Homo sapiens: one gene and its partners. The protein of the gene in region 4 interacts with the protein of the main gene of each other region in a pairwise test. Each region holds a gene or a part of one and is shown on either strand. Other genes may lie near its edges.

Region 1 (3,570 bases), on a different chromosome or scaffold from region 4:
AATTACAGGTGTGAGCCACCATGCCCAGCCAAGTATTGTTATTATTTTTTTTTTCTGAAATGGAGTCTCGCTCTGTTGCCTAGGCTGGAGTGCAGTGGCACCATCTCGGCTCACTGCAACCTCCACCTCCCAGGTTCAAGCAATTCTTCCTCAGCCTCCCAAGTAGCTGGGATTACAGGCGCCCGCCACCAAGCCTGGCTAAGTTTTTGTATTTTTAGTAGAGACAGGGTTTCACCATGTTGGCCAGGCTGGTCTCGAACTCCTAACCTCAGGTGACCCACCTGCCTCGGCCTCCCAAAGTGCTGGGATTACAAACCTGAAGCCTCAGCCACCACGCCCGGCCCTAAGTAATCATTTCTAGTGCCCCTATATATGCTTACTACTTTGAATTAAAATGTATATAGTTTCTTTCTTTTTTGTTGTATATTTTTAAAAAATAAATTGACATGGGTTCTCGGCATGTTGACCAGGCTGGTCTTGAACTCCTGGTCTCAAGCGATCCTCCCATCTCAGCCTCACAAAATGCTAGGATTACAGGTGGGGGGCCACCATGCTCGGCCCAGTTTCTTTCTTCTTTGGACTGTAAGTACCTTAAGGGCAAGTAACTTGTTTCTTTAGTATCCACAGTACCGGCCACTCTTGAATTAACTTGCACTAACACTTGCCTTCTACCACCCCCTTTTATCCATTACTGCTTGTGTCTTGTCACTCCTCTGTTTAAGAGCTCTAAGAGGCTCCCCTGTTTCTACCAGATAAAATTTTAAATTTGTAATGTGATATAAAAGATTCTCGTCGACCATTTCCTTCCTTTCTTTCCAGACTCATGTCTTACCATTCCCTTACATGCACAGAATTTACATACTGTGGAACTCTGGTACTTTCAGCATTAGAAACACTGGGTAACTCTGTTTCTTATCTTAGTGTCATAGCATATGCCATTACTTGTACCTGGAATGCATATTCTTCCTCTTTTTCCCTCCTCGCAAAGAAGCCATTTTCCTTTTTGAGACTTAATTTAAACATCCTCTGCCCTGGGAAACTAGTTTCTCAAGCCCCTTGTCTGACTTTCACACATAGAGTTGCAGTATAGTTATTTATCTTCACTGTTACATTGTGAAAATCTCTAGGACTGAATGTCTTTTACCTCTGGTTTCCCCATATCCTAATTTACATCGTGGTACATAGTAGATATTCAATACATGTTTGCATGAATGAATACATGTGAAATTGAATTTAATGAACTTGTTTAAAGCTATCTAACATTTTCACTTTTTATTAAATATATGATTTGTTGATATACCTATGCCTAATTTGAATTATATATTAAGTGTTTTTAGGCCAGGCACTGTGGCTCATACCTGTAGTCCCAGCACTTTGGGAGGCTGAGGCAGAGGATTGCCTGAGCCCAGGAGGTTGAGACCAGCCTAGGCAACACAGTGAGATGCCATGTCTACAAAAAATTTAAAATTAGCTGGGCATGGTGATGTGTGCTTGCAGTCTCAGCTATTATACACGGGAGGCTGAGGCGGGAGGATTTCCTGAGTCCAGGAAGCCAAGACTGCATTGAGCCTCTGCATTCCAGCCTGGGCAAGAGAGTGAGACCCTGTCTCTTACAAACAAAACAGAAAAGTTTTTACATTTGAGTGGTTTCTTTGATTTTGTAAGAACATTTTAATTTTAGATATTTAAAAATATTTAAAATACAGCTTAAAAAATAAAACAATCCTGTTTCCAAACAGTCAAAATTTAATCACTAACATTTAATTTCATTTCTCTTGTTTTTATATATTCAAGGCTTATTGTGTAACAGAACCTGGAGCAGGCTCTGATGTAGCTGGTATAAAGACCAAAGCAGAAAAGAAAGGAGATGAGTATATTATTAATGGTCAGAAGATGTGGATAACCAACGGAGGAAAAGCTAATTGGTATGTTGTTCAAAACATCTTTGTATATTTTTTCTTAATTGTTTTATCTTCAAATCTCTCTTTCTTTCTGTATATTTTTAAACCACTACAGTTAAGGTATGTTTGTGGAACTGGAAGGCCTAAAGGAGATTATAAACAGTTCAGTGATTTTCAAAAACTAATTTTAAGCCCCTGCACTGTTTTTTCAAATTAACTCTCAGAAGTTTAATGTGTAAAATAAAATACAAATGCGTGCTCTGTTTGAATCTGATTAGGAAGGCTAGCACTCTGTCTACTTGGCTTATTATCTCCACTCCTCATCTCCTATACCAGCCGCTCCTTGGAATCCCTAAAACCCTAAGGAAAAAGGAGAACCTTTGGTATAGTGCCTGTCTCCAGATGTCAGAAATAAACAGAGTCAGTCTTAAAACAGGTTATCTATTAGAGAAGACAGAATTTGACTTTAATAAAATCTGAAATTTTCTAATATATGGTCAAAAAATATGAAGTTCAACAAAGGATCAAAAATAATTTGTATAAATATAAAATACTAAAAAAAAACACTCGATTATTTGTTGATAAAAGATGAGGAAAGTTCAATAACTGTTAAGTTCAATAAGAATCAATAGTATGAGCCTTTAAAAAGCCAATGTAATTTTAAGCCAAAGTAATAGAAGTACAGCATCAAATAGAGAAAAAATGGTGACAGTTCTGGGCAACACATTTTAAAACATGTATTGAAAAACTTGACTAAATCTAGAAGCATGTAAGTATCTTGCATTAGGAGGAGCCTACAAAACATGTTCTGAAAAGCAAAGCCTTGGTTATTTTGGAAGAATCTTGAAGTTTTTCAAATATTATTACACAGAAAGATGATCAGGCTTATATGTTTACTTCAGGATGCCAGCTTAGAATTAATGAGTGAAAGTTAGAAAAATGTAGAATTTAGCTTAACATAAGGACAGGCTTTCTATCAGCAGTGCTGTTAAGTTGTCATGGGAAATACTGTATTTACCCATCACTACAAGTATATAGAGAGTTTCTAGAATAACTTTTTATTGATTGGAATAATGTACTAAATGACCTGTCTCTCTTTGTAAAAAATTCAGATTCAATATATTTGTGTGCCATATACTACAGTTTTCTAGCAAATAAAACATCATTTTTTTTCAGAGTGAGCCTACTAAAAAGTTACTTAGATTAAACATATCAGTCAATTCCTTATGAGCATCCTAAATATATTCAGTATTATGGAGTGCTATATCTTTACCTTTAACCAATTCCTGGTAATATCAGCAACTAATAAAAAGTGAAGAAACTATTAAAATTTAACAAGTTGAGAGAAATCTAACAATGCAGTTTGAAGTTTTCGTAATTTTAAAAACGGATTAGCCAGGTGCAATCACTCACGTCTACAATCCCAGCAGTTTTGGAGGCTGAGGCAGGAGGATTGCTTGAGCCCAGGGGTTCAAGACCAGCTTGGGCAACATAACGAGACCCCATCTTTACAAAATTAAAACAAAAAGAAAGAACTGATTACAACTGTTCACTGTTCATATAGTAAGGCAAATTAGGTAATATATGAAACCAGATAACAATTTTTACGATTTTGTTACTATTATTAAATAAAACTATAGAATGAGTGGTAATGTATTGGTTTTAACCA
Region 2 (3,570 bases), on a different chromosome or scaffold from region 4:
GCTCGAGTGCAACCCCACAGCCCGCATCTACCGGAAGCACTTTCTCGGCAAGGTGGGTGGCCGGCTGGTGCAGCGGGGCTGGCTGGGGTGGGTCACAGTTCAGCCCCATTCGAGGTGGGCCTGGGAGGGAGCAGAACCCATGGGCCAGGGCTGGGTGACAGTCCTAGAGCCCTGAGTGAATGTGCTCCCACCACACACACTCCCAGTCCCCAGGGAACATGCATGGCAGAATCACTTGTTCATTCAACATTGATTGCAAAGGCAGCATTATGGCATGGTGGTTCATGGCAGAGACTCTACCAGGGCTTGAATCCTGGCTCTGCCACCCACTACACAGGACATCGGGTAAATCGCTTAACTTCTCTGTGCCTCATTTCCTAATCTGTGAAAATGGTGGTTGGTGGTAATGATACCCACCTCCTGAGGTTGCTGTGAGGCTTTAGTGAGCTGATATCTGTAAGGTCTTTACAGTGGTGTCTGGGACAAAGTAAGTGCTCAGTCAGGGGTGGCAAATAATGAGCACTAGCTGTGTGCCTGGCCCTGTTCTAGGCACCAGGTATACAGCAGCCAACACAATAGACCCAGGCCCTCCCTTTGGGCAGCTTGGAGTTAGGAGAACAGTAATGTCATGGGTTGATGCAGCCCCTGCCCCACCACCAGCACAGAGCAGGGACCCTGCCCAGCAACAACTTGTCAGAGTGTTGTGGGAGCCAAGGGGAGGTCCCATGCCGGGAATGTGTGTGTCAGGTTGCAGGCCGGGTGCTGTCTCTTCGTCAGCATAGAGCCAAAATGGGGAAGTGTGTCGTGGGCTCTGGAGCCTCGTGGCATGTGTGGGAATCTTGGCTCTTCCATTAACTGTTTGTGTGACCTTGGGCAAGTTATTTAACTTTCCTCGTCGGTGAAAACAGGGATAATAAAAGTACACGCAAAGCTTCTAGAACCACACCTGGCACATGGTAAATACTCAGTTAATGTTAGCTGTTTTCATGTCTTCATAATTACTTGGTGATATCAGGATTATTCTGTTTTTGCAGAAGAGGAAACCGAAGCTCAGATAGGTAAATGATTTAGTCAAGGTCACACAATGACTAAGCCTGGGAATTGAACCAGCTTTGGCTGACCTTCCATTAAGGTGCATGGGAGAGATCATGCTCCTAGTCATTGTATGTGTGTGTGTGTGTGTGTGTGTGTGTGTGTGTGTGTGTGTGTGTGTGTGTGTGTTGGGAAGAGGGGGTGACTCCTTGGGGGTTCGGAAGATGTGTGACCTCAGTCTGGGCCTGGCCATTGGCCTAACTCTGGGAGACACCGGTGCTAACCAATGGAGTTAGGGGAGGATCCACTGTGACTGGGACTAAACCAGCAAGCCCAGGTTCAGGAGCCTTTGCCTGGGAACAAACCCAGAACCCAGCATGGAATTCCACTTCCCAGCTGAGCCCTAGAGGTGGAGCGAGACCTGCATCCTAGGCACCTGCTGTCCAGAGGTTCCCAGCTGGGTCTGGCAGGTGGTAGGATCTGAGGGTACTGTATATGCCAAACACATGGTTGGTACTCAGAAAAGTTTGTTGAAAGAGTGACAAGTGACAGATGAAGGTAGGAACAGATGAAGGTAGTGGACCTCGAGTGCAGCAGGCTCTGAAGAAGTGCAGACTGGAGGGTCAGAAGAGGCAGCTGGGCGCCCTGGCTTATACCTGTAATCCCAGCACTTTGGGAGGCCGAGGTGGGCAGATCACTTGAGGTCAGAAGTTCAAGACCAGCCTGAGCAACATGGCAGAACCCCATCTCTAACAAAAATACAAAAATTAGCCAGGTGTGGTGCTGGGCGCCTGTAATCCCAGCTACTCAGGAGGCTGAGGCAGGAGAATCGCTTGAACCTGGGAGGTGGAGATTGCAGTGAGCTGAGATGGTGCCACTGTACTCCAGCCTGGGCGACAGAGCAAGACTCCATCTCAAAAAAAAAAGAAGAGGCTTCATGTCCAGGATCAGATTAGCAGTAATGAGGGAGAAGCCCCAGGGCTGGCAGAATGGCAGGGCCCCTTCCTGACTCCAGGTGGGGTAATGGGGGAAGCAGCCAGGTGCTCAGGCACTGGGCCCTATCCTGGCAGAGAGGGGAGGTTAGGATGACTTTGGGCGTTGACTTCCTGGGACCCTGAGCCCGCTCTCCCACTGTGTCCCGGGGGCTCCTCTGGGCTTGGGGGTGTCCAAGGAACCTCCCCACTCTCTGGACTTCCCTGCCAGGGGCCTCCTTATCAAGTGCCTGCCACTCCCTCTCTGCTGGATGATGTCAAGCATTTGGGGGTTTCTGCCACTCTGTGCCCAGGCAGAGCTGGGGGACTCTGCCCCAGGTCCATTGAGAATGCCCCTGAGCTGCGGATTCGTGGGGCACATTCACTGGTCCCTGCCTCTATCTGCTCCTGGCCTCTGAGCACAGGTGTTCATGTTTGAACAGGATTTACTTCTAGGATGATTCCTGGGGCGGGTGTGGCCGGGCAGCCAGCTCCACTCCCAGAACTTGGGCTAGGGCTGGGGCTGAGGTTGGCAGGAGGAGCCCGGGGCCAGGCTGGGTGGTGTCTCCCTGAACTTCCAGCCCTCGGCTTTGGGACTTCCCCACCCGGAGGTGCCAGCCCTGGGCTCCTCTCTGGGGGTGCCATCCCTGCCGCAGCCACCCCTGATACTCCCCAGGGTGTCTTCCCAACCCTGTGCCCTCTCCTCCAGGTGAGACAGGAGGGTGGAAACCTGCCTGGCCAGCCACCCTGTGTGTTGTGAGATGTTTCGCTTCCTGTTTCTCATGGGCCCTGGCTTCAGGGGCCACAGAGTCACAGGTTGGGCAATCAGCTTTTGCTCATTGAGCACCTGCTGGGTGCCCAGCCCTGAGAAGGACCAGGGCTGAAGACAGGCATGCAGGTCCGAATATGGTCCAGACTCGATGAGCACCCAGAGATCCAGCGTTACTACCCACCTTCACTGAACTGAGCCAAGCACTTCATCCCTTTCAGTCCTGGCTGCCACCAAAGTACAGGGTTCCCTCCTATTTGGCAGACTAGGAAAGTGAGGCACAGAGCGGCCAAGTGACCTCCTCAGGCTGCCCAGCTGGTCAGTGGCAGAGTGGGGCTTTGAGTGCAGGTCTGTCTGATGTGGGGTCTGCTATCAGCCGTGACACCTGCTATCGGCGAAGGACCTGCATCTGGGAGTGGGTTGGCTTTCTGGCCTTGTTTCCAAAAGCCCCATGCTCAGCCTCACCCACTCCCCTGGCCCCCACCTCCCACTGCAGGAGCATTTCAATTACTACTCACTGGACGCTGCCCTCGGCCACCTTGTCTTCTCACTCAAGTACGATGTCATCGGGGACCAAGAGCACCTGCGGCTGCTGCTCAGGTGAGGGTGGTGGGGGAGTCCTGAGATGGCAGGAAGGGCTGAGGTCTTACAATCTCAGAGCCCATCTCATTTGACCCACTCTCTTCATCAAGGCCCATAGAGGGGCAGGGATTTGCTTGAGGTTGCACAGCAAGTTAGTACCCGAGTCAGCCTGACACCCATCATCACCTCTGGTCCTCGCTGTGGTCCACCCCCTTC
Region 3 (3,570 bases), 8.3 Mb from region 4:
AGGGCTTGCAACTTTCAGTTTAGATAGACACTATCTTTATCTCTAGGCCACAATGCAACTGAGGTTTGTGGAAAATGCCTGTCTGTCTACTACCAACAAAATAACCCAAGGGAGAAAACTTTTCACCCAGCCGAAAACAAACAACTCTGCTGGCGATCTGTACTCTATTGCAGGAATGTTGCCACTCTGTGTAGGGAGAGGGAGGTGAGTCATACCCTTTATTTAAGCCCAGGTGATAGGCACACTTTTAGTGGAGAATAGTACTGTCTCCAAGTGTGCCTGTGTCAACCTCTAGTAGGAAAAGCCTTCGCTGCATCTGCAGTAGTAGGTCAGGGCACAGGAGAAGGGCACAGTCACCCATCTTGTCACAAATGTGGGGTTCTCAGGCAGGAGAGAAGTTGCAATCTGGTTCCTTTGTCCCAGTGAGTGCTTTGGTGGGCTGCACCTCTCCCTCCCCTAGGAGTGGCCCACACCGAGGACTAGATCTCCAGGGATCCTGCAGCTCCCCAGGGTCCTGATGGTCCCCTCTGGTTGCAGATTCAGAGAAGACTCTGAGAAATGTTTGTGGGGAATCTGGTGATGCAGTGACACAAGGGCTGAGATTCCCTGAATCTGCACAACGAGTATCGCACCCACTGCTTCAGCTCAGGTTTGGGGGCAATGTGAGCCCAGCTGCACAAGCTGACCACCTGGTGCTCTGCCCACAGGATGTTTCCAGATTACTATTGGCAGAATTGCCCAGGTTTGCAGGGGCAGAGGGGCTCTCTGACAATTCACTTCTCAGCAGTTTGTCACATTGGTGAGGGGTGCAAAGAAATGCCCCTACCTACCCTTTCTATGGGACTCCAAGTTCCTTAATGGTCAGTCTCTCCCAGGCTCTTGCTGCCTTCCTTTTCTGCCTCCCAGCTGTTTCCTGCATGGTCTCCAACAGGTTTCAACACTCTTATCTCAACTTTCCACTCAGGCTATGATTATTCATCTATAAATTTGATCTGCTTTCTGAGGAGAACTGGCATCTGATGTATCTAGTCAGCCATCTTGGGAAAAAGTTGAATGAACTCTTTTTTTTTTTTCAATTATGATAGAATCAGAAATCCCAAATATTTAGAAAAACCATGTGTATTTTATAGATCACTCATTATTGTCCAACCACCACCACTCCTTTTTTTTGAGACGGAGTCTCTCTGTCACCCAGGCTGGAGTGCAGTGGCACAATCTCAGCTTACTGCAACCTCTACCTCCTGGGTTCAAATGATTCTTATGCCTCAGCCTCCCATGTAGCTGGGATTACAGGCATGTGCCACCACGCCCAGCTATTTTTTTTTTTTTTTTGTATTTTTAGTAGAGACAGGTTTTCACCATGTTGCCCAAGCTGGTCTTGAACTTCTGGCCTCAAGTGATCCGCCCACCTTGGCCTCCCAAAGGGCTGGTATTACAGGAATGAGCTAATATGCCCAGCCCCTTATATAATTGTCTTAACTGGACCTGAACATCTGGGGTTTGGCTATTGAGTTTAACTCATTTAAATTGTGTGTGATTACTTTTGTACTAGGGTTTATTTCTGCCATCTCCTTTTTTGTTTTGAATTTTCTTTGGCAGGTTTGGTTGTTTTTTGTTTTGTTTTGTTTTGTTTGCTCCTGCATTTGACAGATTGTGGTTTCTTTGAATACTCTCAAGGTAATACAGACTATTTTTATGCTTCTACTTATTTTTTAATATAATTGCTCATATTTAAAATTTTATTTTTCCATGTTTATTTTTAAGTATATTAACACCAGTATTTTTCTTCTTTTTTTTTATTATACTTTAAGTTCTGGGATACATGTGCAGAACGTGCAGGTTTGTTACATAGTTATACATGTGCCATGGTGGTTTGCTGCACCCATCAACCCATTATCTAGGTTTTAAGCCCTGCATGCATTAGGTATTTGTCCTAATGCTCTCCCTTCCCTTGCTCCCCACTGCCAACAGGCCGCGGTGTGTGATGTTCCCCTCCCTGTGTCCATGAATTAACACCAATATTTTTCTTCTAAATTGGACCATCATCTTAGCACATTTTTATCTCTATTGAGTTTCTCTTCTACCATTTTTTTCACCTTATGCTCTGCTTCTGTTCTATAGTCATATCCTGAGGAATTTTAGATATGGATTGTGATAGATGTTCTCTCTGCTCTACCTCTGCTTGTCCTTGTTCCCCTCAGTAGGAAATGCTTAGGAGTGACTGGATCTTCTGAACCTGTTGTTATCTTCTCTTTGCTAAAGCTGAGCTGATCTTGACACACTACCCTGTATTATACCCCACTGTTATTAGCTGGAACTGCTGTTGTCTGCCTTGTATTGAAGATTGAGCAGGCAGCAATCCACCTCGGGCAGTGAAAGGAACCCAGTTAGAAGGCTGTTTCCAGCGCATCTAGAGTTTCTGTTTCTCTTCTCTGGAAATCTTTTCTCTCTCTTTTGGGCATTCTTGGTTTATATCTTAATACCTTATATCTGTAAACCCACTTGAACTTCTGTAGTATCTCTAGGGTTGGTTTCCGAGAGGGAGTCAGCAGCCCATGCTAACTTGCCATTTTTTTTTCAGGAAGCTTAAATCTTTATAATATCATTATAATTTTGTATTTAGTACTAAATATTTTCGAATTTGTTCACCGTAGCTTGCAAATGTAAAAGTGTTTAAGAATCAAGTTGGAACATATTTTTAACTTTTTTTTAAAATTTTGATCTTCCCAGTTCTGATAGTATCAGCAGTGATGAGGAGGAGCTAAGGACTTTGGGAAGCAGTGGTAGCGAAAGCAGTACTCCAGAGAATGTCGGACCTCCTTTCCTCATGGATGAGAACAGTTGGTTCAACAAGTGTAAGAGAGTTAAACAAAAGTATCAGCTTACCCTGGAACAGAAGGTATTTTAAAATTATCAAAACGTACTTAATTTTATTCTAGTTATTGCCTTTGAACTGTGACTGCCAAAATATTTTTTAACTGAATAAAATTATTTATCCATTGCTGCTTCTCTTCTGTTTTTGAATTGTCCTCCTCTTAATGAAAAATCAGGCAACTGTAGAAGATACTTTTGTTTGTTGAACTTTTTCCAATTTTATGTTTTAACATAAAAACAAGCCATTATTTTAATAAGCAGCTTAATTTATGTATTTGAGATTTTAGTTTCTATGATAAATTTTATAAAAGATGATTGGTTTGTGAAAATGCAGTGATTGCCTAAGCACGTACATCTGATTTTTTGAAAATTAGATATTTTAGCAGCTCTTGTGTGTTAAGCACTGTAGTAGGCAAAGTGGAGTATATAACAGAAAGAAAACAAACTCTATTATTTTAAGGAGTTTGTAGCCATTACTTTTTTACTGTATTTTCTATTTTTCTCTTTTTGTCTTCTTTTAATATCATTATTCATAGATGATATATATATATAAGGAAAGCCCAATGGAATTAGTGATAGAAATATTCAAAAAATTAAAAATGCAGTGGGGAAATTGTCATAATTTTATAAATATAAATAATTTTATCTATACAGATAGCTATTGCTTAGAAAATATTTTTAAATCCAAATTACATA
Region 4 (3,570 bases):
AGCACTGTACTGATAGAGATTTTTGAGTTGTATTCATTCTTTTGCTATTCAAATAATCTTTCAGTGAATGTCCTTCTCCATATGTCTTCTGTCTTATTTTTGCTGGTATATCTTTGGCATAGATTCCTAGAAGTGGAAATTGTTCTGTTAAAACATGTATTATTTTTAGATATTGCTAAATCCTCTTCCACAGTGTTGAGCCATTTTGCATTTCCAATGGAAATGTATGAGAACAGCTGGTTTCTTTCGGCCTCATCACAGAGTATGTTGCAAAACTTAGATTTTTGTCAATCTGATAGTTGGAAATATGTTTCTCAACTTGGTTTTAATTTTAATTTCTCTTATAAATGAGGTTGTTATCTTTTCATATAGTTAAAAGCAAATTCTGTCCTCTTAACATGGTTTTTTCCATTAATACCCATGAAGCTGCAAAGAAAATTCTAATTTGTCTTCTATTTCCTGGGTTACTTTTTCATCTCCCTTTTCTAGTTCAATTTCTATTTATTTCCTAAGTATTGCTCTCCCTCCAGATTGCATGTTAGTGTTTCTTTTAAAATCCACTGCTGGGCCAGGTGTGGTGGCTCATGCCTGTAATCCCAGCACTTTGGCAGGACAAGGCGGGCAGATCATTTGAGGTTGGGAGTTCAAGACCAGCCTGGCCAACATGCGAAACCCCATCTCTACTAAAAATACAAAAATTAGGTGGGCATGGTGGTGTGTGCTGTGGAATCCCAGCTGCTAGGGAGGTTGAGGCAGGAGAATCACTTGCACCTGGGAGGCAGAGGCTGCCGTGAGCCAAGATAGTGCCATTGCACTCCAGCCTGGGTGACAGAGCGAGACTATGTTTCAAAAAAAAGAAAAAAAAAAAAAACTACTCATTTGTGAAGATCACTGCTATTCTAGTGCATACGTTCTGTTTGGAGGGCTCTCTCTTCTTCTGACTCACATATCAAACTGCTTAATGGAGATCTTGAAATGCCTCTCCCGGGCACCTTTAGCTCAACATATGCAAAGCTCTGCCCCAGCATGTCCTTCCCCTGCTGTTCTCCAGTGCAGTGAGTGCTACACTCACCAGCTGCCCAGGTCTTAAACCTGGGTTATCTGCTGATGACTCCCTCTCCTACCTTCCTTCTATCAAATCAATCACCAGTTTCTGTGGCTTTTATCTCTTAAATGGTTCTCAAATGCATTTATTTCTCTCCATCTCAGACTACTGGTTTAAGTCACTGTCATTTCTTTCCTAGATTATTGTGCCTTCCTTCCAAGTGGTCTCAGCTTTTCTTCTTGCTCTCAAGCATGGAGAGAATTATATTTTATTTTACTATTTTATTTTATTTTATTTTATTTTAATTTTGAGATGGAGTCTGGCTCTGTCACCCAGGCTGGAATGCAGTGGCCCAATCTCGGCTCACTGCAACCTCTGCCTGACAGGTTCAAGTGATTCTCCTGCCTCAGCCTCGAGAGTAGCTGGGACTACAGGCATGTACCACCATATGTAGCTAATTTTTCTATTTTTAGTAGAAATGGGGCTTCACCATGTTGGCCAGGCTGGTCTCAAACTCCTGACCTCAAGCGATCCACCCACCTCGGCCTCCCAAAGTGCTGGGATTACAGATGTGAGCCACAGCTCCCAGCCAGAATTACCTTTAAAAACATAACATAGGGCCATTTACCAGCTTAAAAACTTCCAATAGCTCAAAATAAAAATAAACAACCAATCAACGAACCAAACAAAAAAAAACCCAAGTCCCAAATCATATATTTCCATAGGTACATATGTAAGTAAGTAGATACCACCAAGCTCCAGAACATAGACATGAAACTGATAAAAGTTTACCCCTGGGGAGGGGACTGAGGTGCAGGCAGTGAAGGGGGTGTTGTGGATGGGGTTGGGGTTGGGGTAGGTAGAGGAGGACTGCAGCTTTATCATTATTTGAATTGTTTGAATTTTTTATAGTTAGAATATTTTCAAGTATTACCTATATGTGTAAAAGTAAATAAAATGGACTTAACTAGCTCTGAGGTAGACTGAGCTCACCAGAAGGTATATGAATTCCCAATGCCAGGTTGCCTGGAAGAGGCTTTAGGGACAACTGTTTCCAGGGAATGAAAAACCATCCTCTGCCCTTATGTATTATCTGAGAATTTCAGTCAAGATATTCTTACCTTGGTGGTCCACAGTTTGACAGTCCAGTCAAATGATGATGTGACAAACAGGTGAGAAAAGTCGATTGGGCCCACTGCCATGTGGCAGTTAATTCCTGTCACTGGCCCTTGGTGACCTTCAAAGACCTCACCAATACCTGCTTTGCTGTAGGAAGAGCACACATGAGCAGAATTCCAGTGACCTCTGAAAAGCAATGATTGCTTAAAAACAAAACAAAACAAAAAACCCTCAACTCTGCATCTCCATAATTTAGAACAACCACACACCACCAAAATGAAATCATTTTTACAGTTATCCTGAAAGAAATTGTTTGCAAATATGTTACCCTATTTTTCATTATTTAAAAACAATGTAGGGCAATGAAATCTTTTTAAAATACAGAATTTAATATCAATATTTATTATTTAATTCTTTTTGCAGAATTCCTCAAAGCCTATCATTGCTGATGCAGCTATTTTAATGGAAACAAATACACTTAGGTCTCTGAAGCTTTTATATTTATAAGACTATTTTATTCTTGAGATAGCATTTTGCACATGGTCTGCTTTATCTCCTTTTGGGGAACCTATTGACTATAAAACTCCATCCATCCTTGAAGGAACAATCATTTATTTTTTTCAAGTAAATTTCTTAAATTACTTTAACATAGCTGAAAATGTAACACTTTGTGGAAACCCTTGTCACCACAAAATAATGCACATAATTTAAATATAATATGGAGAAAATAATGTTTTCTCTTTACTGAAAACAGAAGACAGATTTACATATCCACTGTAAATCCCATACGGGCAAGTATCTTGTCTTTCTTGTTGCCAAGTGTCTGGCATATAGTAAGTGCTCAATAAATATTTGTTGAATAAACTAGCTAAGAAAAAGAGACAAACTTATGTCTCAGTCCTTTTTTAAAACAGAAGCACATTTGAGAAATAATGATAGACATTTAAAAAATTACACACAGACATATCTTGCTTATTTAACTAAGCTGTTATTATTTGCAGCCCTCTATTATCACATAGTATTCTGCATGCAATCATATACAATTAGGAAGATGTGAGAAAACATACCAAAAATGCTATATTTAAAATATTCATGTGCATGAGGTTATAAATATGACAAATATGTAGGAATTGTAGAATCCTAATATTATGTCACTAAGAATAAAAACGAGCTCAGTTATTAAAACATTTGGGCCTCTGGAGCACCAATAAATGTCAATGTGCTTAGCAAAATTTGGAATCATGAGCAAAGTGTGGCAGTGCGTGTTCCATGTAACAGGCACTCAAAAATTATGCCCAGTGAAACTGCTAAGAGCAGTTCCACACATGATCATTTAAATTTGTTCTAATGAACCCGAGGAACTGATCTTTGAAGTGGCCCCTGGTGAGACTCCACTTGCTCTTAAC

Evidence for each region.
Region 1: the proteins of DYNC1I1 (region 4) and ACADM interact in a two-hybrid assay, tested with the Homo sapiens proteins (one large-scale study listed by BioGRID).
Region 2: the proteins of DYNC1I1 (region 4) and RAP1GAP interact in a two-hybrid assay, tested with the Homo sapiens proteins (one large-scale study listed by BioGRID and IntAct).
Region 3: the proteins of DYNC1I1 (region 4) and RUNDC3B interact in a two-hybrid assay, tested with the Homo sapiens proteins (one large-scale study listed by BioGRID and IntAct).

What each region holds. Positions count from the first base shown.
Region 1 is NC_000001.11:75,738,186-75,741,755, forward strand, and holds part of ACADM (medium-chain specific acyl-CoA dehydrogenase, mitochondrial isoform a precursor), read left to right. Parts: intron 1-1,794; coding exon 1,795-1,925; intron 1,926-3,570. UniProt on the Homo sapiens protein: Medium-chain specific acyl-CoA dehydrogenase is one of the acyl-CoA dehydrogenases that catalyze the first step of mitochondrial fatty acid beta-oxidation, an aerobic process breaking down fatty acids into acetyl-CoA and allowing the production of energy from fats.
Region 2 is NC_000001.11:21,613,788-21,617,357, reverse strand, and holds part of RAP1GAP (rap1 GTPase-activating protein 1), read left to right. Parts: coding exon 1-52; intron 53-3,268; coding exon 3,269-3,372; intron 3,373-3,570. UniProt on the Homo sapiens protein: GTPase activator for the nuclear Ras-related regulatory protein RAP-1A (KREV-1), converting it to the putatively inactive GDP-bound state.
Region 3 is NC_000007.14:87,767,851-87,771,420, forward strand, and holds part of RUNDC3B (RUN domain-containing protein 3B), read left to right. Parts: intron 1-2,730; coding exon 2,731-2,899; intron 2,900-3,570.
Region 4 is NC_000007.14:96,038,018-96,041,587, reverse strand, and holds part of DYNC1I1 (cytoplasmic dynein 1 intermediate chain 1), read right to left. Parts: intron 2,312-3,570; coding exon 2,167-2,311; intron 1-2,166. UniProt on the Homo sapiens protein: Acts as one of several non-catalytic accessory components of the cytoplasmic dynein 1 complex that are thought to be involved in linking dynein to cargos and to adapter proteins that regulate dynein function.